Linked DNA regions of Homo sapiens. The protein of the gene in region 2 purifies or fractionates together with the protein of the main gene of each other region. This does not show direct contact. Each region holds a gene or a part of one and is shown on either strand. Other genes may lie near its edges.

Region 1 (5,507 bases), on a different chromosome or scaffold from region 2:
TGTTGATCTTCTAGTTGTTCTATCCCTTATTGAAAGTGGGGTACTGGAGTCTCCAACTGACATACTTTTCTTTTAGCTTTTTATTTTGGAAAATTTCAAACATATATGAAAGAAGAGATAATGTACTTACTCATCACCCAGCTTCAACATTTATCAACATCTTGCCAATCTTACTGAATCTATCCTTCCTTACCTTTTTTAAAAATGTTTCCTAGAGTGTGTCAAAGCTCATCCCAGATGTCCTAATGTTTCTAGTAAATGCTTCTGCACAATTCTAAAAGACAAGGATGTTTTTAAACCCAGCCCCGACACTATCATACCTCACAAGATTCATGCTAATTCCTCAGTGTCTTCTAGTCCCAAGTCCATGCTCAAGTGTCCCCCCCTGTCCAGGCACCCTCTTCAGGGGTCCTCCATGTTTCATAGCGAGAAGGGGCCCTGAGAGTTGGGCACCCCGGGCAGGCTGGCTGGAGGGGGCTTTGGAAAGGAAGGCTTTGGCCAGCGTGTGAGGGTGCAGGTCTCACCAGCTCCTGTTTGGTCTGTTTCAGGAACAAATGTGGTATCTGGGGCTGGCGGTCTGAGAAGATGGAAACTGTTAGCGGCTACGAGGCCAAGGCAGGAGAGGCTAGGGGTGGGGGGCTGGGGGTAGGAGATGAGGTCCAGGAACTCAGCTCCTCTCCACATCCATCCCAGAGTAGCCCCTGGGCTCTGGAAACCCTGAGCATTTGTGGGAACTCAGCGGGCCTGAGTGCCCAGCCCCTGCGGAGTACACAGGGCTCACCCACATCATGGGCCCCTACCCAGGGTACCGAGATCAAAAGAGGAGTGTGTTCCTCTTGACCCTGGGGCTGCATCTCCTCGTTGGTGACTTCCTGGGGTTCAGACCCTGCCACCTCCTCCATTTTGGGGAGCAAGATCTCATCTGTCTCTGGGACAGGAGGACCTGGGTTCTGCACTGGTGAGGCTGAGTGTGGGGAGCAGGCTCTGAGCCCCCAGCTCCCCGTGTCCCCTGCTCCCCAGGTGTACAGTGCCACCAACGTGGAGCTGGTGACACGCACACGCACGGAGCACCTCTCTGATCAGGACAAGTCGAGGAGCAAAGGTAAACCCAGGTGCGCCTGCCTGCTGCCCGGTCACACCGTGTGGTGGGGTCACCCTGGCCTGGGATTAGGGGCCAGAGTTTCCCAGGATGAGCTGGGAGGCCTCCCCATTCCCGTCTGACCCCTCTTCCCCCAGACAGTAGGCTCCAGGGGTGGAGGTGGGCAGGGGCGATGCGAGCATTGTGACCCCTTACCAGCTCCCACCCCTTCTCCGTAGCGGGGAAGACTCCATTCCAGTCCTTCCTGGGGATGGCGCAGCAGCATTCCTCCCACACCGGGGTGAGCCGGGGCTGGGCCGAGACAGGGCTGGCGGGGGGCCGAGCCTGGGCGGGAGGGCACCCTCTGTCACCTTGATGGCTGAGTCCGCCCTGGGACCCACGCAGGCCCCCGTGCAGCAGGCAGCCAGCCCCACCAACCCCACAGCCATCTCCCCTGAGGAGTACTTCGACCCCAACTTCAGCCTGGAGTCACGGAACATTGGCCGCCCCATCGAGATGTCCAGCAAAGTACAGAGGTGAGGTCTGAGAGCTGGCTGGGGACTTGCCTCGGGACAAGGGCTCTTGCAGACCCCTCTCTGGGCCTGTCATAGTTAGGGACCCACTCCCTCGGCTGGCTTCTCTCTGGACTCCACTCCTGGAGGGCAGGAGTCATGTCTGCCTTATCCATGGTCCTCAGCCCTTAGCAAGGGGCTTGGCACAGAAAACCGGTAGTTTGTCTTTGATGAATGGATGGTGCCACCCATGTATGGTTTTCTATTGAATTTCATGAGTACCTGCTGGGGCCAGCGTGGCACAGTGGGAAGGGCCCCCAGCGACGTGGCCTGGGAGTGGAGCGTCTGCCTTGGTGGAACAGAACAGTTACGCTCTTGCCTCGTGAGGAGCCTTGAGCAGGTATAGGCGGTAACAGCAGGCACAGTGCCTGCACAAGCCTAGCGCTCTCCCCACCATCTCAGGAGGATTCTCTTAGCCACCCAACAGTCGCTGGGATTCGAACCCTGGCAGTCTTGCCCTGGGGTGTGCTGGACATAAAAGTTTGGCAACACGTGAGCTGGTGACCAGCTCTGGGCTGAGGAGGAAAACGGGGCTGTGGGCCAGGCCCAGAGAGAAGCCCACAGCCTGGCACCTGGCCTCCTTGTCCAGACCAGATGAGCTGGTACGAAATCCTCAGGAGCCCCAGCCTGGGCCCAGGGAGGAGGGCAGCTTGGGCCACGTGGCCAGGACACCAGCTCCCGGGGGAGGCGGGCAGCGGCATCTGAGCAGAGCAGGGCACTCCAGGCCAGGCAGAAGGTGGGTAAAGGCAGCTGCCCACGAACCAGAGGGCAGTCCTCAATGGAAGGGCCACCAGCCGTGCCTCACCCATGTCCTGTGGTCGGCTGGGCAGGTTCAAGGCAACACTGTGGCTGAGTGAAGAGCACCCGCTCTCCCTGGGTGACCAGGTGACCCCCATCATCGACCTAATGGCCATCAGCAACGCTCACTTTGCCAAGCTGCGCGACTTCATCACTCTGCGCCTTCCACCTGGCTTCCCCGTCAAAATTGGTGAGAGGCTGGGCACAGGCAGCGGGAGGACCTCAGGCATGGCACCCTCCCTCAGCGCAGTCCCTGGAGAGCTGCAGGGGCCGGAGGCACAGGTGGCTCTCCGCCAGGGCTCAGGCGTGGCTGTCTTCTCACAGAGATTCCCCTTTTCCACGTGCTCAATGCCCGCATCACCTTCAGCAACCTGTGTGGCTGTGATGAGCCCCTGAGCTCCGTGTGGGTGCCGGCCCCCAGCTCTGCTGTTGCCGCATCAGGTACCCCAACGGGAGGAAGAGGGAGCCTGCACAGCTTTCTGGTCACCAAGCCCCGCGGGTTGAGCGTGGCCCCTCTGCCACCTGCCTAGGGAACCCTTTCCCGTGCGAGGTGGACCCCACCGTGTTTGAAGTGCCCAACGGGTACAGCGTGCTGGGCATGGAGCGCAACGAGCCCCTCCGGGACGAGGACGATGACCTCCTGCAGTTCGCCATCCAGCAGAGCCTGCTTGAAGCGGGCACTGAGGCGGAGCAGGTGGGACTTGCCCAGGGGGTGGGCTCTGGCCTCTGCAGCCACACGGCAGAAGTGACAGCTGTGGGCTCTGGTGGCTGCAGGTGACCGTCTGGGAAGCCCTGACCAACACCCGGCCCGGTGCCCGCCCTCCTCCCCAGGCCACGGTTTATGAGGAACAGCTTCAGCTGGAGCGGTGAGCCCCTCATGGGGCTGGCTGGGTCCCTGTCCCCCCAGCCCTGGCTTGGCGGGGAGGGGGATAGCAGGAAGGTGCTAGGACCCCAGGCCCTCTGCAAGGCCACCCTCTGTCAGCAGCGCTATCTGCCACCAAAGGTGGTGTGAGGGGTGGGGAAGCAGGGCCCTGCCTTGTCTCCTCTGCTTGCCACCCTGTCTTTGCCTTTGTCCTCCAAAGCCGGTCCCCAGCCCCTCGGCTTCTGCCCCAGCCTTGGCGCTCACTGGCCTGTTCTTCCCTCCCCTGCCCTGCCTGGAAGGGCCCTCCAGGAAAGCCTGCAGCTGTCCACAGAGCCCAGGGGCCCAGGATCCCCTCCCAGGACACCCCCAGCCCCCGGTCCACCCAGCTTTGAAGAGCAGCTGCGCCTGGCCCTGGAGTTGTCTTCACGGGAGCAGGAGGAGCGGGAGCGGCGCGGGCAGCAGGAGGAGGAGGACTTACAGCGGATCCTGCAGCTGTCACTCACTGAGCACTGAGCCATAGCCCCGGGAGGGCTGGCCAGGCCACTCCCTGCCCGCTTTTGTAATTTATTTATTTATAAACTCTCTGCTGCTGAGCTTGGGGCCTGGAGCCCCAGGAATGAGCAGGCAGGGGAGACTGAGATGGAAATAAAGAGACTGTCGCAGCAGGGCTGCTCTGCTCACTGGGCTGGAGCGGTGGGGACCCTGAAGGTGGGGCGCTGTGGAGAGGCACTGTGGATGGCGGCCTCAGACCTGGGCTTGAATCCTGGTCATGGTCCCCTTAGCCTATCTGAGCCTCAGTTTCTTCAGTTGTAAAATGAGGAGACCACCCCCCACCCTCCGCCCCTCAGGGCTGAAAGGAGCTGGCGAGAGTCACGTGTCCTTACCAAGCAGGCGTCCTGTGAAAGTCAGATCCCCTGTGCCCTGTCCCACCTGCTGGGGACCCGGTTCGTCCTGCCACCCAGCCTAGTCTTCTGGAAACCGGCCCACGTGCCTGCTGGGGAGGAAAAGCCTGGGTCCCCAGGCACCATTCACCTCCAGCTGGGAAGAGCCCCGACGCCGACCCCTGCAGCCAAGCCCAGGCCCTGGCCCTGACTGCGGCTTGTTCTCTGCGGGTGGGTTTGCGCAAGTCACTTCCGCCTGCGTAGCTGGAAGCCCTGCCCTGCTCGCCTCCGAGGTGGACCTGAGAGCCCCTCATGGGCTTCCTGGGTTATTTGTAAACCCCAGGCCGTTTTCCCCGGAAGCCTGTCTTCCAGTGGTTCCTGCGGAGTGGGAACGAGAAGGCCGACCAGCAGGGAGAAATGTTTGGGGTGGGGGCCCTTGGCCGAGGGCGCGCCGTGCCTGATCCTCTCTAGACCTGTCCCCCACCTCCCCACCTCAGCTCTGCCTCCCTAGGACCCGCCTCTGCAGGGCACAGGACGCTGGAGGCCCAGAACAGCTCAGGTGCTCCCGCTGGGCCGGCCCGGGCCGGGCGCTTCCTGGGAGGGGGACCAAACTCCCGGCCTTCAGCTCTTGCCCTCCGGGTCTCCGGGCTCCGCACCTGCGCCCGCCCCCGGCCTCGCCCCTGACCTGTGCCCAGGGGCTGGGCGGGCCGAACAGCGGAGACCGGAGGGGCGGGGCCCGGCCGCCCTGAGAAGCTCCGCGGGCCCGGCTGGGCGAGTGTCTGGCCCTTTAAGGGCCGCCCCCGAGGAGGTGCCAGGCCCGGGTGGCGCCGTCCGTCCTTCCTGGTCCTGCGGGTCCAGGACTGTCCGCGGGGTTGAGGGAAGGGGCCGTGCCCGGTGCCAGCCCAGGTGCTCGCGGCCTGGCTCCATGGCCCTGGTCACAGTGAGCCGTTCGCCCCCGGGCAGCGGCGCCTCCACGCCCGTGGGGCCCTGGGTGAGTGTGGTCCGGCCGTGGTGCCGCCCACGCAGTTGCTGCCCCGGCTTGGGAGCGCGTCCTGCCCGCCAGCGGGCTCCTCTCGAACGGGGACATGAGGAGGGGGCCCCGGGGCTCGGGCTGGAGGGCGCTGGGGGCCTCGAGGGTCTCTGGTACTGGCGCCGGGGCACAATCCAGAGCCCTGCGCGCCGCCCGGGCTGCGGAGGCCCCGATCTGAGCGCGCCCCCCGCCACACTCGGCGCCCACCCAGCCGACCTGGCCTTGGGCCGGGGCTCCACGGGGCCTCCCGGTGGGGCGTGGACTGGGGTGGGAAGACGATTGGCAT
Region 2 (8,825 bases):
CATGTAAGATGTGCCTGCTTCTCCTTCTGCCATGATTGTAAGTTTCCTGAGGCCTTCTCAGTCATGCAGAGCTGAGTCAATTAAACCTCTCTTCTTTATAAATTACCCAGTCTTGGGCTATTTTTTTTTTTTTTTTTTTGAGACGCAGTCTCACTCTATTGCCCAGGCTGGAGTGCAATGGCACGATCTCGGCTCACTGCAACCTCCACCTCCCAGGTTCAAGTGATTCTCCTGCCTCAGCCTCCCGAGTAGCTGGGATTACAGGCATGCACCACCATGCCCGGCTAATTTTTGTATTTTTAGTAGAGACAGCGTTTCACCATGTTGGCCAGGCTAGTTTCAAACTCCTGACCTCGTGATCTGCCCACCTCGGCCTCCTAAAGGGCTGGGATTACAGGTGTGAGCCACTGCACCCGGCCGGGCAGTTCTTTATAGCAGTGTGAGAATGGACTAATACATGCACTTTACCTGGGTTATCACATCAGCCCTCACAAGTCCACAGGTAGGTGCTACTAGTGCTGTTGTTTACAGGCTGCAGAAAATTTCAACGCTACTTTTGAAGATCAACATTAGGTAAACAAATTTGCAAGGAATATGAGTAGAATCACAGAGCTGAAGGAAGAAACAGAAGTTAAAAGGAAACAACTCCACAATTTAGAAGTTGTTTGCAATGACATCATGCTTGCAGATGATGACTGCTTAATGATACCTTATCAAATTGGTGATGTTTTCATTAGCCATTCTCAAGATGAAACACAAGAAATGTTAGAAGAAGCAAAGAAAAATTGGTAAGAAGAAACTGATGCCTTAGAATCCAGAGTGGTATCAATTCAGTGAGTGTTAGTAGATTTGAAACTTCAGTTATATACAAAATTTGGGGGTAACATAAACCTTAAAGCTAATGAAAATTAAACATTTTATAATACTTTAAAATTTTGTTTAACAATCTTGAATATTGTTTGGAAAATAAAAAAATCTGCAAAAACTTGATAGATATTTCTCCAAAGAAGATATACATACAAATTGCACACAAACATATAAAAAGATGCCCAACATCACTGGTCAGCAGGGAAGTACAAATCAAAACCACAACAAGATACCACTTTGTGCCCACTAGAATGTTTATAATTTTTTTTGAGAAAGTGTTGGTGAGGATGTGGAGAAATTGGAACCCTCACACACTGCAGGTAGGAACGTAAAATGACACAGCTGCTGTGGAAAACAGTTTGGCAGCTCCTCAAAAAGTTAAACATAGAATTACCAAATGACCCAGCAATTCCACCCATAGGTGGAAAAAGAATTGGAAGCAGGTAATCAAACAAGTACTTGTAAGTGATTGTTCATGAAGGCACTATTCTCAGTAGCTAAAACATGAAAACAACCCAAATGTATATCAATGGATAAAAAACTAAACAAAACGTGGTCTATCCATACAATGGAATATTATTCAGCCATAAAAAGAAATGAAGCACTGATATATGCTACAAGGTAGATGAATTTTAAAAACAAAAAAAATATGATAAGTGAAAGGAGCCAGACCCAGAAGTTCGAATATTGCATGATTCCATTTATAGAAAATACCTGTAATAGGTAAATCCATAGGGACAGACAGCAGATTAGGGGTTGCTGGGGCCTCAGGGAAGGGGCAACAAGGAGTGATTGTTTAATGGGTACAGGTTTCAGGTAATGAAAAAGTTCTAGAACTAGACAGAAATGATGATTGCACAACATTGTGAGTGTACTAAATGCCACTGAATTGTACACTTTGAAGTGATCAATTTTATGTTTGTGACTTCCACCTCAATTTTTTTTAAAGGGGGACAGTGAGGGAAAACGGGACTAAAGCTAAGGCTAAAAGCTTGGCAGGGTTGTGTTCCTTAGCATATCATCTTCCTATTCCTCCCTTCTTTCCAACTTCCAGAAATTTCTTGAAAGTGTCCATCTAGCCACTCTCCCTGTCTTCCTCAGATGCCCTTTGCCTTCAAAATCCAATTCTTTCCATCACCATGGAAAAGGGTCTTATCAAATCCTTCACACTGAGAGACTAGTAACTCAAAGTATAAACACCTCTGTGGCCTACTAGCCTATTCCTTTGTTTAATACACGCATCTTGAAAGTGGACAAGGAGAAAAAGGACAATGCTTATCTTAAAGTAAGGAATAAAACATGGTGGCAGTTTCAGCGCCCACAGTAGGGTAAAATTGGAGAGGGGGAAGCCTTACAGGCACCCCACAGAGCCTACCAAGTAGCTACCACCTACTCCATTTGTGCATCAAGGTATCTCTGCCATCCAAGCCTGAAAGCTCTAGGGACAATTTAGAGAACTCTTAACACTCATCCTGAGGTCCCATCTCCTCAACTCGCCAAACCTGGGAGCTTCTCTTCCAGCCAAAGCTGCTGAGATTCCACACAATACCTGTACTTTCATCTGCCCCCTGGGGAAATTCTCCAAGAACAAAGGGCATTCTTTTCTCCAAAGAAGCCCCAACCCAGAAACAGCTTTTTTTGCAGCTCTCTAACCTAAAAGCTTCCTCAAGGCCAAATTTACAGGAAATCCTTTTCCCTCCTGGGGCTCCACCTTTGTTGATGCTTCCCCTACTTGTTAGTGCTTGGGCATTCCAGAGTCTGGGGAGGGAAGCTGGGAAGAGAAATGTGCGGATGAGAGAGGGAGAGAAAGAAGAAAGAGAGAGTGCAGATGGGCAGGAAAGGATTTCTCTTGACTTAGAGTCACTAGCAGGAACACTTAATAGTTCCAGTCAGCCCAGTACTGCTGGAGACTTGCAATCCAAAACGACAGAGTTTCTTTCTTTTCCCTTGTCCTACCCCACCTTTCACTTTCCAACATTCATCCTTTTGACCGTCCAGGATCAAATTACAAACTGCCTTTCAGGTTCTGTTCTTCAGGGACCCCAAAATCTGACAGAAACAGCCAAGGGCCTAGGAGCTAATTTCTGGGGTCAAAGGAAAGTCCCTCTTAGGCACAAAATAATTCCATAAACAGATGTGGGATGTTCATTTAAAGCAGTGGTATTCAATCATGGCTGCAGATCAGAATTACCTGGGAGCTTAAAAAAAAAAAACCAAAAAACCAAAAAACAAAACCTGATGCCTGGGCTTCAGTTTAGACCAATTAAATCAGAATCTTTAGAGAAGGAGCCCAAGCATTTTTTTTTTTTTTTTTTTTTTTTTAGAGACAGGGTCTTACTCTGTCACCCAGGCTGGAGTGCAGTGGTGCAATCATGGCTTACTGCAACCTCAACCTCCTGGGCTCAAGTGATCCTCCCACTTCAGCCTCCCAAGTAGCTGGGACTACAGATATGTGCCACTACACCCAGCTAATTAAAAAAAGTTGTTTTTTCTTAATAGAGACAGGGGCTGTTGCTCAGCCTAGTCTCAAACCCCTGGGCTTAGTCAATCCTCCTGTCTTGGCCTCCCAAAGGGCTGAGATTACAAGCATGAGCCACCATGCTGGGCAGGTGATTCTTATATGAAGCCAGGTTGATAACCATAACTCAAAGCTATTATCTCCATAATTAGAGATCTAGATTTATCAAATAAACAAATAAATGCTTAGAAATGCCTTAGAAGGAAAGGAAAAAAAGAAGCCTACTATATGGAGTACCTACTGAATGCTGAGTCCTGCTGTGCCTTTGCAGACACACACACACAAATAGAAAAGATTTGGAAGGGAAGAATGGAAAGTGGGGAGGCTGAGGTTGAGGTCCAAGTTGAAGGCAAGACCTGGCAAGCAACTTAGCCTAGAGCTGGCTCTGCGAATGCAAACAGAAAAGAGCCCAGATGCTCTTTCTGAAGAAACTTCACTATGAAATACCTGGGGAGGGGAAGACTAGCATTAATCCTACCTATAGCTAGAATAACCTTTCCTTCCATCTCTCCCAAAGTTTGTTAGGGGAAAACTATTCCCAAAAAATTTTACTAAAAGTGTGGGGTGGGGCTATAAAAGACTATGTTTACATAACCAGTGCGAATGGGGGAACTGAGAACACCCCTTCCTCCTTTCACCCCCCACCCCTAGAAGGTGCCTCCAGAACACAGGTAATTTGTGTATAACAAGAAATATTTGCAGACTGATGACATTACCTGGCTCCTTCAACTTGAGACATTTGAAGGCAGCTACATCCTTGAAGCAATTGCTTCTGATTCTTCCCTTCAAAATATGTGTCTGCATTTCCCCCAACTGCCTAGCCTTCCCCCTATGTCCAACAGGGGCCACTGTGAAATGCAAAGTCAATTCTTTCCTTACCATGTCCTTAAAGCCTCCAAGGACAGCGGCAGTGATGATGCCCAGGAACAGGCCAACAATGTTGAGGATGGTGGCAGACCAGAGCAGGTGGTAGAGGTGGATGATATCTTGGCAACTGCTGACATCGATGTATTCGTAGTACCCACCAGTGATCTCCACCCGGCTGGACAGGGAGGAGCATGCTCCAGTCAGTCCCCAGGGAGCAGGCTGTCCTCCCCAGCCCCCTCCCCAACTCTGGGATTGGGCTACCATACAGCTCAGTGAAAAGACAGGTGGGCAGGTGGGGAGCTACAGTAAGAGACATCATAGCCATGTACTATAATAAATCAAAGTGTGATTGTTTATCCCCACTCCCCGAAAAAAAACTCCTACCTGCCAGAAAAATACTTGTAACCACCACTAACACTAATCCTAGATAGCACTTATTGACACTTGCTATGTACCAGGCACAGTGCTAAGCATTTCACATGTGTGAATTCATTGCATCTGTGCTGTTTAATGTGGTAGCTACTAGCCACATGTGGCTATTTAAATTTAAATTAAGTAAAATTAAGTAAAAAGAAAAATTCAGTTGGTAAGTCTCACCAGCCACATTTCAAGTGCTCAATAGTCACATGTGGCTAGTGTTTACTATACTGGACAGAGCAGGTTACAGAACATTTCCATCATTGCAGAAAGTTCTGCAAATCCTCACAGTATCCTATCAAATAGGGACTATCACCATGCACATTTTACAGATGAAGAAAGTGAAGCACAGAGAAGTTAAAGAACTTGCCCAAGTCGTAAGTGGTAGAACTGGGACCTGAATTCAGGCTTCAAAGACTTCAGTGTGTGCCCTCTCAAAACAAAACAAACAAAAAAACAAACAAATAAAAACCAATGTCCTGGTAAACAACTAAAGCTGAGTTGCTACACAAAACCTGAAAGTCGCCTCCGTGGGGAGGCCTTTCTTGACCACTCTGTCCAAAGACACCCCTTCCCAGCCCTGTCGCTCTCTATCACATTATCCGCTATGGAATGAATTTTGTCCCTCCAAATTCATGTGTTAAAGCCCTATCCCCCAATGTGACTGTATTTTTAGATAGGGCTTTTAGAAGATAATTAAAGTTAAATGAGGCCACAAGGGTGGGGTCCTAATCGGATAGGATTGGTGGCTTTATAAGAAAAGGAAGATCTCGCTCTCCTCCTCCTCCTCCTCTTTTTCCCTCCTTCTCCCCTGACTTCCCTACTCCACGCCCCTCCCCCACCCACCCCCGACCCCGACTTTCGTTCTCTCCCTCCCTACTTGAATGTGAAAGGAAAGGTCACTGTGAGCACAGAGGGGAAGTGGCACAAGCCAGGTAGAGAGCCCTCACCAGAGCTCGACCATGTTGGCACCCTGATCTTAGACTTCCAGCCTCCAGAAATGAGAGAAATAAGTACATTTCTATTGTTTAAGCCACCTGGTCTATGGTATCGTGTTATGGCAGCCCGAGCTAAGCAATACATCACCCTTTTCTAATTTCTCTGTAGCATTCATTCCCATATGAAAATAACTTACTGATGTGTCTACTACGTTATTGTCTGCCTCCCCAACTTGAACGTGAGCTCCATGAGGGCAGGAACTGGTTCATTTTGCTCACTGCTGTGCTTGACACACAGTTGGTGCTACATAAATACCTGTGGAATTAATTAAATGAAAGTTCCTGTCCTCCTGGATGTCACAAACTAGTTTACAACTTGGCCACTGGAGTTCATCACGAATCTAAAACACTTAAAGTCACAACGAAACGCCCTGGCATTAGGATGATTATTACATGTGACTCCCCTGCTATAAGAATGCAAAAAAGAAAACAGAAAAACAATCAAAGGCTGATCTCCAAAATGAATCAGAGAGGGACTATTCACATATGAAAAGACTTAAACTTTACAGATGAATTTATCTTCAGATTCTTTAAAGTCAGTGTTTCTCTAAGGAGGTGAAGTCAGTGTGGTTACAGGGCAGACTGCATCAGAATCATCTGTGTTTGTGTCTATGTGTGCCTGCCTGTTTGTATCAGTGCATTATTTGTGTGTGCCTGTGGGTGTCTCTGCGTGTATCTGTGCATGTATCTTTGAGAAAGAGAGATGGTTAAACATGCAGATTCCTAGGCCCAGCCCCAGTCCTACTGAATCTGGTAGAATCTCTGGTGATGGGGTCAAGAATCTGTGTTAACAAGTTCATCAATGTTTGAGACCCACTGTTTTTAATAGTAAGCTTCCGTAGTGGAATTTTTTAAAAAAATATTTTTTGTAGAGACAGAGTCTTACTATATTGGCCAGGCTGGTCTTGAACTCCTGGCATCAAGAGATACTCCCACATCAGCCTCCCAAAGTGCTGGGATTCCAGGTGTGAGCCACCACACTTGGCCCATAGTGGAATTTTAAGGGAGTTTCAATTAATCAGAGTTTGAATTGGATTTCAGTATTTTCAGGAGCATATCTCAAGAGCCCATGCATAAGCATACATTGTCTCCTATTAGCTGGCATTGTACTAGGCCCTGGGGACAGGGCAGGGAGGATGCACAGATTATTTACTGCCCCCAAAAACGGACAGCTGTACAAGGACTATTCTCTGAAAAGGACAGACCTGTGTGTATGGGTGAGTGTGGAACTGCAGGAGCACCTTTGTAGCTTGGGAGTCAACTTCTGACATCCCCCAAATTATGTTTGCCTGCCTCCTAAAACACCAAGGGTGGACTAGTAGTATATATAGGCAGGCAGTATGCCATAGCTGACTCTGAAGTCAGACTGTGTTCGAATCCTGGCTCTGTCATCTATGCTCTGTCACCAGATGCTGACTCTAGCAACTTACTTTCTTACTCTTAGGTTACTTACTTTACTTAACTTCTCTGAGCCCGGGGGATGTAATGCCAACAGGCATGAAAGCAGTACTCCAACATATAATAAAAGCCTCCACTAAAATATGTAGCTACATTTTGTTCCTTCTAAGAGCCAGCCTCTGGCAACACAATTCAAACCTTTGAACCCTGTTCTTAAAGGTATTAACACTTTATTTTGTTTTTTGTTTGTTTGGTTGGTTGGGTTTTTTCTTTTTCTTTTTTTTTCCTTCCTTCTTTTCTTTCCTTTTCTTTCTTTTTTTTTTTTTTTTTTTTTTTTGATGGGGTCTTGCTCTGTCACCCAGGCTGGAGTGCAGTGGTATGGTCATGGCTCACTGCAGCCTCAACCTCCTTGACTCAAGTGATCCTCCAACCTCAGCCTCCCAAGTAACTGGGACTGCAGGCTCACACTGCCATGCCCAGCTAAATTTTGTAGAGATGCGGTTCTGACATGTTGCCCAGGCTGGCCTCGAACTCCTAGGCTCAATCTATCCTCCCATTTCAGGCTCCCAAAGTCCTGGGATTACAGCCATGAGCCACTGTCCCTGGCCAGTATTAAGACTTTGTAGGCACAAACCGCAATATGGGAATAGGATAGTAGTTTGTTTTAAAATATTCAATAATTTTAGATAATATATACTTGGTTTCAGTTTGAGTGGTTCCAGCAGCCATTTAATTTTTTTTTTTCACTGAACCATGAAGGAAAAGAAAGCTAATTCTTAGATATGGTTCGGGTTTAGCAAATTAATGTGGTTTTTTTCTGCTTGAGATTCAGGATTCCATTTGGTTCAGTCTCTGGGCAGAGCTTCCTCTGAAATTGCACCTTTTGCATTCCCACTGCTCCCATCCTCATGCCTCCATCACTGTAAGGCTGTCCTGCCAGACCCCACTGCTGCCTGATTACTCTTCCTAAAACACTTTTAAAAATATGTCATTCACTTAATCAAAACCCTTCTGTGGCTCCCCAGTACCTTCAGGGGAGTGTTCAAATTCCTCAGTCTGCCAAAGTCCAGCCTCAAAATGGAGTATACACTCCAGCCAGGCTGGAGTCCACAGAAGCCCCACACTGGCTATGCTGGGTACTAATTCCAAACCTTTGCTCAGATTTCTCCCCCTGCATTGAAGGTATTGCTTTCTGTTCTCTGCCTATCCTAATCTCTCTCACTGCTCAAAGCTTCAATAGTGCCTTCTTCAAAGACGCCACTACCCATTCATTAGCTTTTTCCTTGGACTCCCATAGTCTATTCCTCTTAGTTTGGCACTTTGTATATATCAATAATTCAGTTATTTATTTAATCTAATATGTGTTGGTAGCGTATCAGTGCTAAATACTGTGCTGGTGCTAATGTTACAATCAAGGCCAAGGCCGACATGATGTTTCTGTCAAAATCGCAACCTCTTGAGGGCGAGGGTCGTCTCTTAACATTCCTTTGTGTCTCTCTCACTGCCTAGCACAGTGGTAGAAACATTAAAGGTCGTCAATAAATACTCGGTGAATGAGTAACTGAGTGCAAAGACTAATCACTGTATTGATCATGAGATTGATTACCCAATGTGGGCTTTTACCCCCTTGCTCTCAACGTTCTGGGTGGACCTAGAGAAACGGATAAGTTCTCTGTGTTTCAGTCTCCTACTTAACAAAGTAGGCAGCAGAAGATCTTAGATAAGGCAGGAGGGCATCCTTCTGCTCTTCCATAAGGGCC
Region 3 (9,123 bases), on a different chromosome or scaffold from region 2:
GATGCTCCTAAATGTCAAACAGAGTGAAGGAAATAAAAAGATTTAAGTGACAGAAAAATTATAACTCATAAGAAGATATATCTAAGTTTTGGTGGGGTGTTTAGTGACTAGTAAGAGGAGCCCCTTGTAGAAGAATTTCAGTAACGCAAGCATACTAGGTAAGAAAGAATCAGATTTCCGCACTATGGAAAACAATGTTTCCTCTTTTAGTCAAATGAACAATGTATCAAGCATCACATCAACAGACTTTTAAAATGAAATAATTATGACTATGCTCATCTCTGATCTCAGGAAAAAAATTAGTCTAGATACATATAAAATATAAATTTCATATACATTTAAAATGATACTCTAAATAGCTGACATTTCTCTTAAACAATAATTTTAAAGACATATTTATGCAATAAATTTAGCATCTCACCTGTCCAGCAACAGCACTGAAGTAAGTATACACGGAGTCACCAGCTGAGGAATAAGTGTCTGAATATGCTGGCCCAGAGTATCCATCGAGGAGTATAGCTGGGCCTGTTTCTGGCACTGGCTGTCCCATCTGCATTCCTGGCACCTGAATGCTAAAATTTCCAAACTATAATAGTGAAAGGGGAGAAGGTTAGTAATATAAATACTACCTATTATCTATGAAAGTTGGATTAAAAGAAATTATTAGAAGTCCGTCAAAAAGTAAACAGTTACCAAAAGCTTATAATCTTATCACAAAAATTTTAACTACAAAATGTTAGATGTCCTACATTAAGACATAATTCAATTCATCAACATATATTACCCAGCATTAAAAGAAGTATAAAAGAAAAAAGAAAGTTACTAGCCTCTAAGAACTTAATCTAAGAGGAACATGTACAATTTTAAAAAATGTTTACCAACATCACTGAAGTAAACAAAAAGTAAAACAATGCAAGATTTTACCTAAAGTAAAACTAAGAAGTAAACCTCAAGACACATACTTAGAAGAATATATGTGTAAATACAATGAAACTTTAAGTGTCAACATTTACAATATGTTGGGTATTGTATTCTTTACAACTATTTAAACTTAAAATAAAAACTTTATATGTCAATATAAAATATGGGAAAAGGGTATATAGTTTTTCAAAAATCTTTTAAGGGGCGGGAAGCAAAATGTTTAAAGAAACTGCTGTGGTTCTGGTAGTATCCTGAGGGATGACATAGAGTTCTGTATGCTGGCCTCCCACTTGTTTCTTTTCAGCCTATTGTGACTTATTACAGTTTATATATGTGGGATTCTCTGATGTTACAGATTATGTGATCTAGTTTTAACTAAAGCCATAACAAAATGGCAATAGTAAAGATTCAAAAACATGCAAAGCAACATGAAAGGCTTGGACATGAAAATATTGTCTAAGCCTTTCCTTACCCACATTATGTAGTAATAATAATAATGATCAATTTTGACTCATTTGAAACTGTCAAGAGGACAACTTGAAATATAAATTTATGTAAACCGTGTTTAGGGATGAACCTTGTTGGCCAGGGGCCCCAGTTCTCCTCCACATGGGCCCTTTCACATGGCTCTTCCACTTTTTCATAGCTTGGCAGTCAGCTTCTAAGAGAGAGAAAGAGAAGCTGCCAGTCCTCTTAAAATATTGAGTCTGGAACTGCCATGGTGTCTTTTCTACTGTATTCTACCAGATGAAGGTGAAACAGGCCCAATCCAGATTGAAGAAAGTGGAGAAATAGTCTGTGCCTTTCGATAAGGGGAGTGGTAAAGAATTGGTAACCATCATTAATCTGACCACCAGGTTCTCAAATTATGGGACTGGGGAAAGCTAATGCTGCAAATTGGGAAGGGAAAACAGATTAAAAGTTATTCCTAAGGACAGATTCTTCATCTTTGAATTGATTTTGTATGCTATTTCTTGTGTGAAAATCTAATCTGTTTAAGTTTTCTGTGCTTAAAATGTTTTTTTATTATTGAAAACACTGAAGCTTGTATAATACAACATGTACAAACAAAAACATGTAACGAAGTTTTAGATTGTTTCATTTCCTGTGACCAAAGTGAGAAACAAAGAAAAAAGTCCTTTACATTGAGTTATAATTTTTATTCGTATACAATTAGTAAAAAAAAGAAAATAATACAATTTTTATAAACAATTCTTAAAAGAAGAAAGTAAAAATCTATTGGAAATGCATCTCCTACAGAGATAAATCATGCACTTAATTAGATAAAAGTATACTATCAAAACAATTAGGTCTAGCAGCTGACATTTTATATTTTGTTAAAAGAATATAAGAAACATTAATAAGGCATGGGTTTCCTTTAACAGGATTTATAAACGTCTCAACTATCTTATTAATATTCTCCTACTAAAGAAATCATGTAAGTTTTATCCCAAAATTTTATCCAATGTATCTTAAAATATTTCAATTACATTTTTTAAAATCAGTGCCTCTAATCTATATATTGCTTCAGCTATTGAGGGTACTTCTCTTTCCGGCGATTAATAATGAGCATGACAACAGCTGAAAAGAGTTGTTTATTTTAAATTCATGGAAAAGGGGATTTAAATATTCAAAACACATACAGACGTTCTCTTTATTGTGTCGTGGAACTCTCCATCAAATTCAAGCACTCTGACAAAAGTGGGTAAGGAAGCACCAAATTATTTGAATGAAAATGTATTACTCTTGCCACCTCACTCTACCATACATATATGAATTCAGAGCATACCAAGAGGAGTAAATATACAAACTTCTAACAGATAGCTTCAACCAAATGAAAATACGTATACGCTAGGGACGTTTTTAAAGACCCACAGGTTTATGCTATCTTGATTAATCTTCGAAGGGGCTTTACTTTCCTTAGGTACCTTAAACTTCCTTCCTAAATTTAAGGACTGAGGAGGCATAGGCATTACAAAGTGGACGGTGCCAGAGGGGATTGAGGCAAGTCTTAAGGAAAGCAAATCAATTTTAGGAACAAGTATGTGTGGAAGTTGAGGACCTGGAAATTCATATCCTAAAACAACAACAACAACCACAACCACAACCACCACCACCACCACCACCACCACCACCACCACCACCACCATGAACTCCAAGGGGTAGGAGTAACTCTTTTGAAGACCACAACCATAGCCCAAAGTCAAGTCCTATATTAAAATCAGTAAAACACAATTTCTCTTTTTAGGTAAAAAACAAATAGAAAATATATTATATTCTACCCACACCGCAATGGATCAAACTACTGTTAACTCTGTTAACACAGCGTGTAGATCACTGACATCGATACTAAAGGTTTGGGCTCCTTTCTGAAAAGAAGGGGCTAGCCACCAGGACTCTACGATTATAACTTGCAACTCCCAAAGGTGATGCAGGATAAAAGTTATAACAAAGAGTAACTTCCCCCCGCCTGGGGGCGAGCGGGGGAGTCTAGAACAGATTGCCCTTCGTATAACAGTAAAGATTAGGAGTTATTTACCGTACACCTTAATTTATTCATAAGGAACTTAAAGAACAAGAAGTGGTCAGGAAATTCAAAAAGAGGATCTCTAGCAACACTGAGTGGGGGGCGGGGGAGGGAAGTACCACAAACGATTACTGGAACAAGAAGAGGGTGGCTTGTTCCTCCATTCCAGGAAATAAATTTCCAAACACACATTACTCCCTCGGCTCCACCAGGACGCTCCTCGAGGGTCCTCAACGACCAGAAAACCTGCGGCTCCAAGTCAGCCCAGGATCAATGCTCGCCCAGGCCCTGGCCCCCAACAGCCCCGGAATCCGGCGCCGCCGAGTACCAGGCGCGGACGCAGGGAGCAGGAGCCAAGGGCGGACCCGCACGTTGGCACCGCCCCCGGGGGCGCCACACCCCGCGAGGAAGAGGGACACGACCAAGCGGCTGGGACTCACCCCTCCTCCGTATCCCGGGTAGGCCATGACGAGCGGGACGAGCGGAGCGAGCGTCACCCTCGAGTCGCGTCCGCAGTGCTGGGAGAAAAAGCACAGGCGCAGGTGCAAGGAGGCGCAGCTGCAGGTGAGGCTGAAAGGCGCACTAACCGCACAGTTCACTCCTCCGAACCCGCCCCCTTCCGCAGGCCAGCCCCGCCCTGCACGGTTCCGATTGGCTGAGTCCCACACTTTGGAGCCAACTCAGCTGCAGTCCGCCCCTTCCCGCAGCCTAGCCCCACCCATCTCTGCCCTGATTGGCTACACCCCATCGGGAGCCCTCCAGTCCCTGCTCGACTCTTACTGGCTCCCTCAGGTTCTCGCGCGCTCTCCTTCTAAATCCCGAAGAAGCCTTGGCTGCTGCAACGGAATTCCCACTCTCTGTGGAAAGGTCTTCTACAAGCCTTCAACTCCTCAAGTTACTTTTCTTTCTAGAAACCCCAAACCGGCAAGTCTGTGACTTATTTTAACCAGCCCTCCACGCTTTTGAGCTGGACTTCAAAGACCCATCTGTGAATTTCAAAATTTTGCAGTTACATTTACTTTTGTGTAGTGTTGATGTCACATCAAAACTTTGCAACCAGGACCACACCTGTGGTCCAGGAGGAGTGCTTCTGCGCCAAAACCCACTTGAGGCCACATTGGACGAACAGGTTATTGATTCTGTTTGGTAGATAAATGGTGACCTGAATTGTGGCATGTTGGCAAATAAACAGGATATCTAGTTAAAGTTGATTTCCAAATAAACTTTTTTAGTGTAAGTATGTCCCAAATATTGCACAGGACGTGAACATACACTAAAAACTTATTTGCTGTTTATACACTGATAATATAGACGGTGTCCTGTATATAATCTGACTCAGCCTTTGGGCAAACTCTTGTTAAATGTTCAATTACTTTGGCTTATTAAGTAATAGCAATGGACAAGTCTGATTTATCTCTGGAACTCAAATGAATTTTGTAGCTCTGACTTTAAAAGGACAAGGCAGCTGTAGCTTTGGCTTATGAACAAATGAAAAAACCAAATGATATTATTTTGAGTTATCTCTGAAGAACAAGAGAAGGGCTAACATGTTTCTTAAAAATAAGGCTATCAAAAAAATGTTAACTATTCACAAAGGAAATCAGCCTTGCAGAGCTGAGTATCTGTTGTTCAGCTATGCTACAGAAGAGGATGTTGGACCTTGTGAAACAATTCTCAGAGGAAACAGCAGAGAGAAAGGAAGATTGCCGATGTCCTAGCTACTCTTGGGAAAGTGTCTGTAAGTTCCTTCAATGCTGTAAGAAATACTTAAGCCACTAAGGTTAAATTATTGGCATAAATAAATAGAGGGGAAGGGTAAAACCTACGTGGCAAAAGGGAAAAATGCATGGCTTATGAAGGTATCAAATGATAAAGCGCTAGAAAGAACAAACCATTGCAAAATTTTATTCCAACGGATTAACTACATATTCAAAGAACTGCTTAGGAAGGATTGAGTGTTTACATTTACAATGTTAGTCTGATTCTGTGGTCAAAATTTTTGTGCATCTTGTTTTCATCAAAATAGCCTTATTGATGCAGCTGCATTTGTGCAGTTGGGAGTTAAGGCCCCATGGGTTTCTTGCCTTTCTGCACATTTAATTGCAAAGATAGTATTTCCTGCCAGGGCAAAGTTTGGGTACGTTTGCTAGCAGCCTTCTTAGGACTTTCCTAAGCTTGGAGTTCTTCCAGTTGCATAACAAACACAGTGCATGTACAACACCCATCTGGCAGCTCCTCTTCGCCTTGTGGGACTTCAGAACGAGGGGAATCTATGGAAGTATGAAGCTCATGGTGCCTGTTGTGCTTTGAGTAATAAAGTTATTTGTCTCAGACTCAGGAATCTCACACATTCTGCCAACTTCCATGAAACTGTGGCACTCTACTTGTTTGCTTATAACTAGGGTAAAATATCAGATCCTTCATAGTTCCTGCCAATATATCTCTTAACTTAGAGAAAGGGCTACCAAAGAAAGTTCCTACCATGAAGATGCAGAGGAGGACTTTGAACAACACAGCATCTCTCTCTCTAAAACTAGTGTTTCAAATTTTAAATATTCTAGTATAAAAATTCAAATAAGGCCATAGAGTTTTTTTTAAATAACAGTAATGTTAATTTGCCTCCATGAGTCAAGTTAATACTGTATGAACAATAGCATTTTATGAAAATGTCATGTCTATTTAAAAAATTTGCTTTTTAAATATTTTTCTTTTAATAAAATCCTTCTTTACTTTATAAAAATAGTTATAGAGTGAATACGACGTACTAGGCATTGTGTGTTGTGAAGTGTTATTTCTCAAAACAACTCCATCAGGTATATGTTATTATTCCCACTTTACAAATGTGAAAAGTAAGGTGGATAATTGTATTTCACTACCCACAAATGCAGTTGCATAGTGACTAGCAAATCTGAGAGTATGGCTGCAGAATGTGGTTTCTTAAACATTGTATGTCCCCTTTTCTCTCCATCCCCAACCATAGTGCTGTATTTCAGAATATAATAAAATTGTTTACACCATAAAAGAAAAAAGGCTTTAAAAGTTTTTAAATGGCAGTAGAAAATATAACTAGAGAAATAGCCAAGGAAACACATTGTTTTGACCAAGATTAGCCAATTTAATTACTTCTCTTACACAGGGTACATCCTTTCTGGTGACTATAAAGCTTACAGGATTATGTCTAACTATGGAATTTCTTCTGAATCTTGGTGGCATTGGTCTTATCATAAGTTTAGATATTCAATTAACCAGCACATTTACCAGTAAAATGTAAACAATAAATTAACTGCAGTTCTTTTTCCTATCTGTTGCCACCTCATTTTCTCTTTCCCACTATATGAATGAGGGAGAGAAAAGAGTCACAGCTCCTCAGCAAATTTCAATCACAAACCCAGAGCCTACTTGCCTCATATAAATCATATATATATATATATATATATATATATATATAAAATAAATAAGACATACCAGCTAATGGAAACCAACATTAATGGAGTTTATTTTATATCACTAAGAAATTTCATTTAGATAGAACAATTCATTTACTCAATAATTATTTATTGAGCATGTATAATGTAACACTATTTTAGATGTGGAAAACATACATCAATAGGAGGGGAGGAATGTCCTTGCTTTTTTGGAGCTTACATTCTAGCAGGGAGAACAGACAATAGTAAGTAAAAATGATGAGTAAGTAAATTATAAACCATGTGAGAAGATGATAAATGCTATTGAAAAATAAGGAAACCTAAGTCAAGGTTAAGGGGTAGGGAGATGACAGAGTAGGTTGTAGCTCTAAATGGAGTACTTGGGTAGCTTTATTGAAAAGGCAAGATTTGAGCAAAAACTTAGAGGTCATGAATGAGTTAGACATTCTGGAGGTATCTGTAGGAAGACATTTCCATGAAGAACTAGAGTTAAGGTCCTAAAGCAAAACCCTGCCTGACCTATTTGAAGAATAACAAGGAGGCCAGTGAGCCTGGAATAGATTGAGCAAGAGGGAGAGTAGTGGAAGTGGTTGCAGAAGCGGGGACATTGGAGCAGATCATGCAGGGCTTCACAGACCATTTTAAGTACTTGCTTTTATACTCTGGTTGTGATACGGAGCCACCGAAGAGTTTGAAATCTAAGTGGGACATGATACGATTTAGGAAGGCTCACTCTTTCAGCTGTTGACAACAGACAGAAGGAGGTTAGTGTAGAAACAAGATCTGTTAGCAATCTGTTGGTAATCTAGAGATGATGGTGACCTACTAGGGTATAGCAGTTGAGATGGTGAGAAGTAGTGAGATGATTATTCTGTTTTTAAGGTATAGCCAGCAGGGTTTACTGGTGTTTTGGATTTGCCCTTAAATTACATGGTGAAGACTGGGGAAGGAGCAGTTTGGGATAGTGCCAAATCAAGAATTAATATTGGAGATGTTAAATTTGAGACGCCTGTGATACTAAGTGACTATGTCAGGCTGTTTATCTAAGAGGTTGCCTAGAGTGAACAGCTTCTGGTGAGGGTGCCTACCAACCACTCAGCATTTGCATCTTAACAGACCTTTCTCCAATTGATACACTGATGACAAGTGGCAAAGAATTTATTTTTAGAGAGGGAGGATTCCTCCAAAATGGCCCTAACAAATTGCTGATGCTGATAATGAAAGTGAAAGGGGACTAAGAAATTAAGGCCTCTTTGGGCATCATTGATTATAAAAATTAATTAATAATATAAATAGTTTTATGACTTAGAGGATTAAAGGTATAGCCAATTGCATATGGAAAATAATTCTGACGACTTCTAAATCCATATAACACTTAAGAAAGTACGTACACAGTGTCTGTTAGCTCAGGCTGCCATAACAAAATACCATAGGCTGTGTGGCTTAAACAAAAGGAATTTATTTCATACAGTTCTGAAGACTAGAAGTCCAAGATCAAGCTGCCCACAAGGTCAGTGCCTGGTGAGGCCTCTCTCCTTGGTTACAGATGGCTGCCTTCTCCCTGTGTCCTCACATGACCTTTGCTTGGTGCATGAGGATAGCCAGAGAGGGGGCAAACTTTCTGGGGTCTCTTTTTATAAGGGCACAATTCCCATCATGAGGACCCCACTCTCATGACCTCACCTAACTGAATTGTCTCCTAAAGATCTATCTCCAAATATCATCCCATTGGTGGTTGGGGTTGCAGCATGCAAATTTGGAGAGGGAAGCATTTCATTCATAGCACACAAAATCTGAAAGTTGAAAAAAGAGACACTTGATCATAATGTTCACTGTTGTTCTGTCACATTGATCTACCCTAGTATTTATCTATTTTATGCTAAAATGTATTCCTTAATTGGATTTCCAATATTCCTTAACATAGATTTCCTTAATTGATCTACATGCAATAATTATCATACTTTTCCAGAAATTATTCATTTTTTTAATATGGAATAATGAAGATATATATGTGTTATTTGCATAAGACATAAAAATATGACACTATCAAGTGAAGCCATCCAGTCATAATTTTATTTTAAGCCCGAAGTTGTTCCTTTCAGTATCTTTCTAAGGGTTACTGCCCACCAGTGAGGACAGAAGAAAAATAATAAGCATGCCAAATAAGACAAAAATAAATATTATTTACCATTTATTACCTCAAGCAGCCACTTGGCAAACTGACCTTTCTTCAGCTAAGCTCTCAATAAC

The links. The genes of interacting proteins can lie anywhere in the genome.
Region 1: the proteins of TMEM255A (region 2) and ANKRD13D purify together in Homo sapiens (affinity purification with mass spectrometry; 3 studies listed by BioGRID and IntAct, with this or other methods). This does not show direct contact.
Region 3: the proteins of TMEM255A (region 2) and GCA purify together in Homo sapiens (affinity purification with mass spectrometry; 3 studies listed by BioGRID and IntAct, with this or other methods). This does not show direct contact.

The regions. Positions count from the first base shown.
Region 1 is NC_000011.10:67,298,510-67,304,016, forward strand, and holds the end of ANKRD13D (ankyrin repeat domain-containing protein 13D), read left to right. Parts: intron 1-548; coding exon 549-615; intron 616-1,020; coding exon 1,021-1,102; exon of another isoform or gene 1,103-1,112; intron 1,113-1,317; coding exon 1,318-1,379; intron 1,380-1,483; coding exon 1,484-1,614; intron 1,615-2,480; coding exon 2,481-2,638; intron 2,639-2,772; coding exon 2,773-2,889; intron 2,890-2,978; coding exon 2,979-3,142; intron 3,143-3,222; coding exon 3,223-3,314; intron 3,315-3,609; coding exon 3,610-3,823; 3' UTR 3,824-3,975; downstream 3,976-5,507. Other genes in the region: SSH3 (protein phosphatase Slingshot homolog 3), read left to right, coding at 5,117-5,182. UniProt on the Homo sapiens protein: Ubiquitin-binding protein that specifically recognizes and binds 'Lys-63'-linked ubiquitin. Does not bind 'Lys-48'-linked ubiquitin.
Region 2 is NC_000023.11:120,272,621-120,281,445, forward strand, and holds part of TMEM255A (transmembrane protein 255A), read right to left. Parts: intron 4,428-8,825; coding exon 4,265-4,427; intron 913-4,264; exon of another isoform or gene 532-912; intron 1-531.
Region 3 is NC_000002.12:162,339,041-162,348,163, reverse strand, and holds the start of GCA (grancalcin), read right to left. Parts: upstream 4,033-9,123; 5' UTR 3,916-4,032; coding exon 3,889-3,915; intron 3,797-3,888; exon of another isoform or gene 3,568-3,796; intron 587-3,567; coding exon 422-586; intron 1-421. UniProt on the Homo sapiens protein: Calcium-binding protein that may play a role in the adhesion of neutrophils to fibronectin. May play a role in the formation of focal adhesions.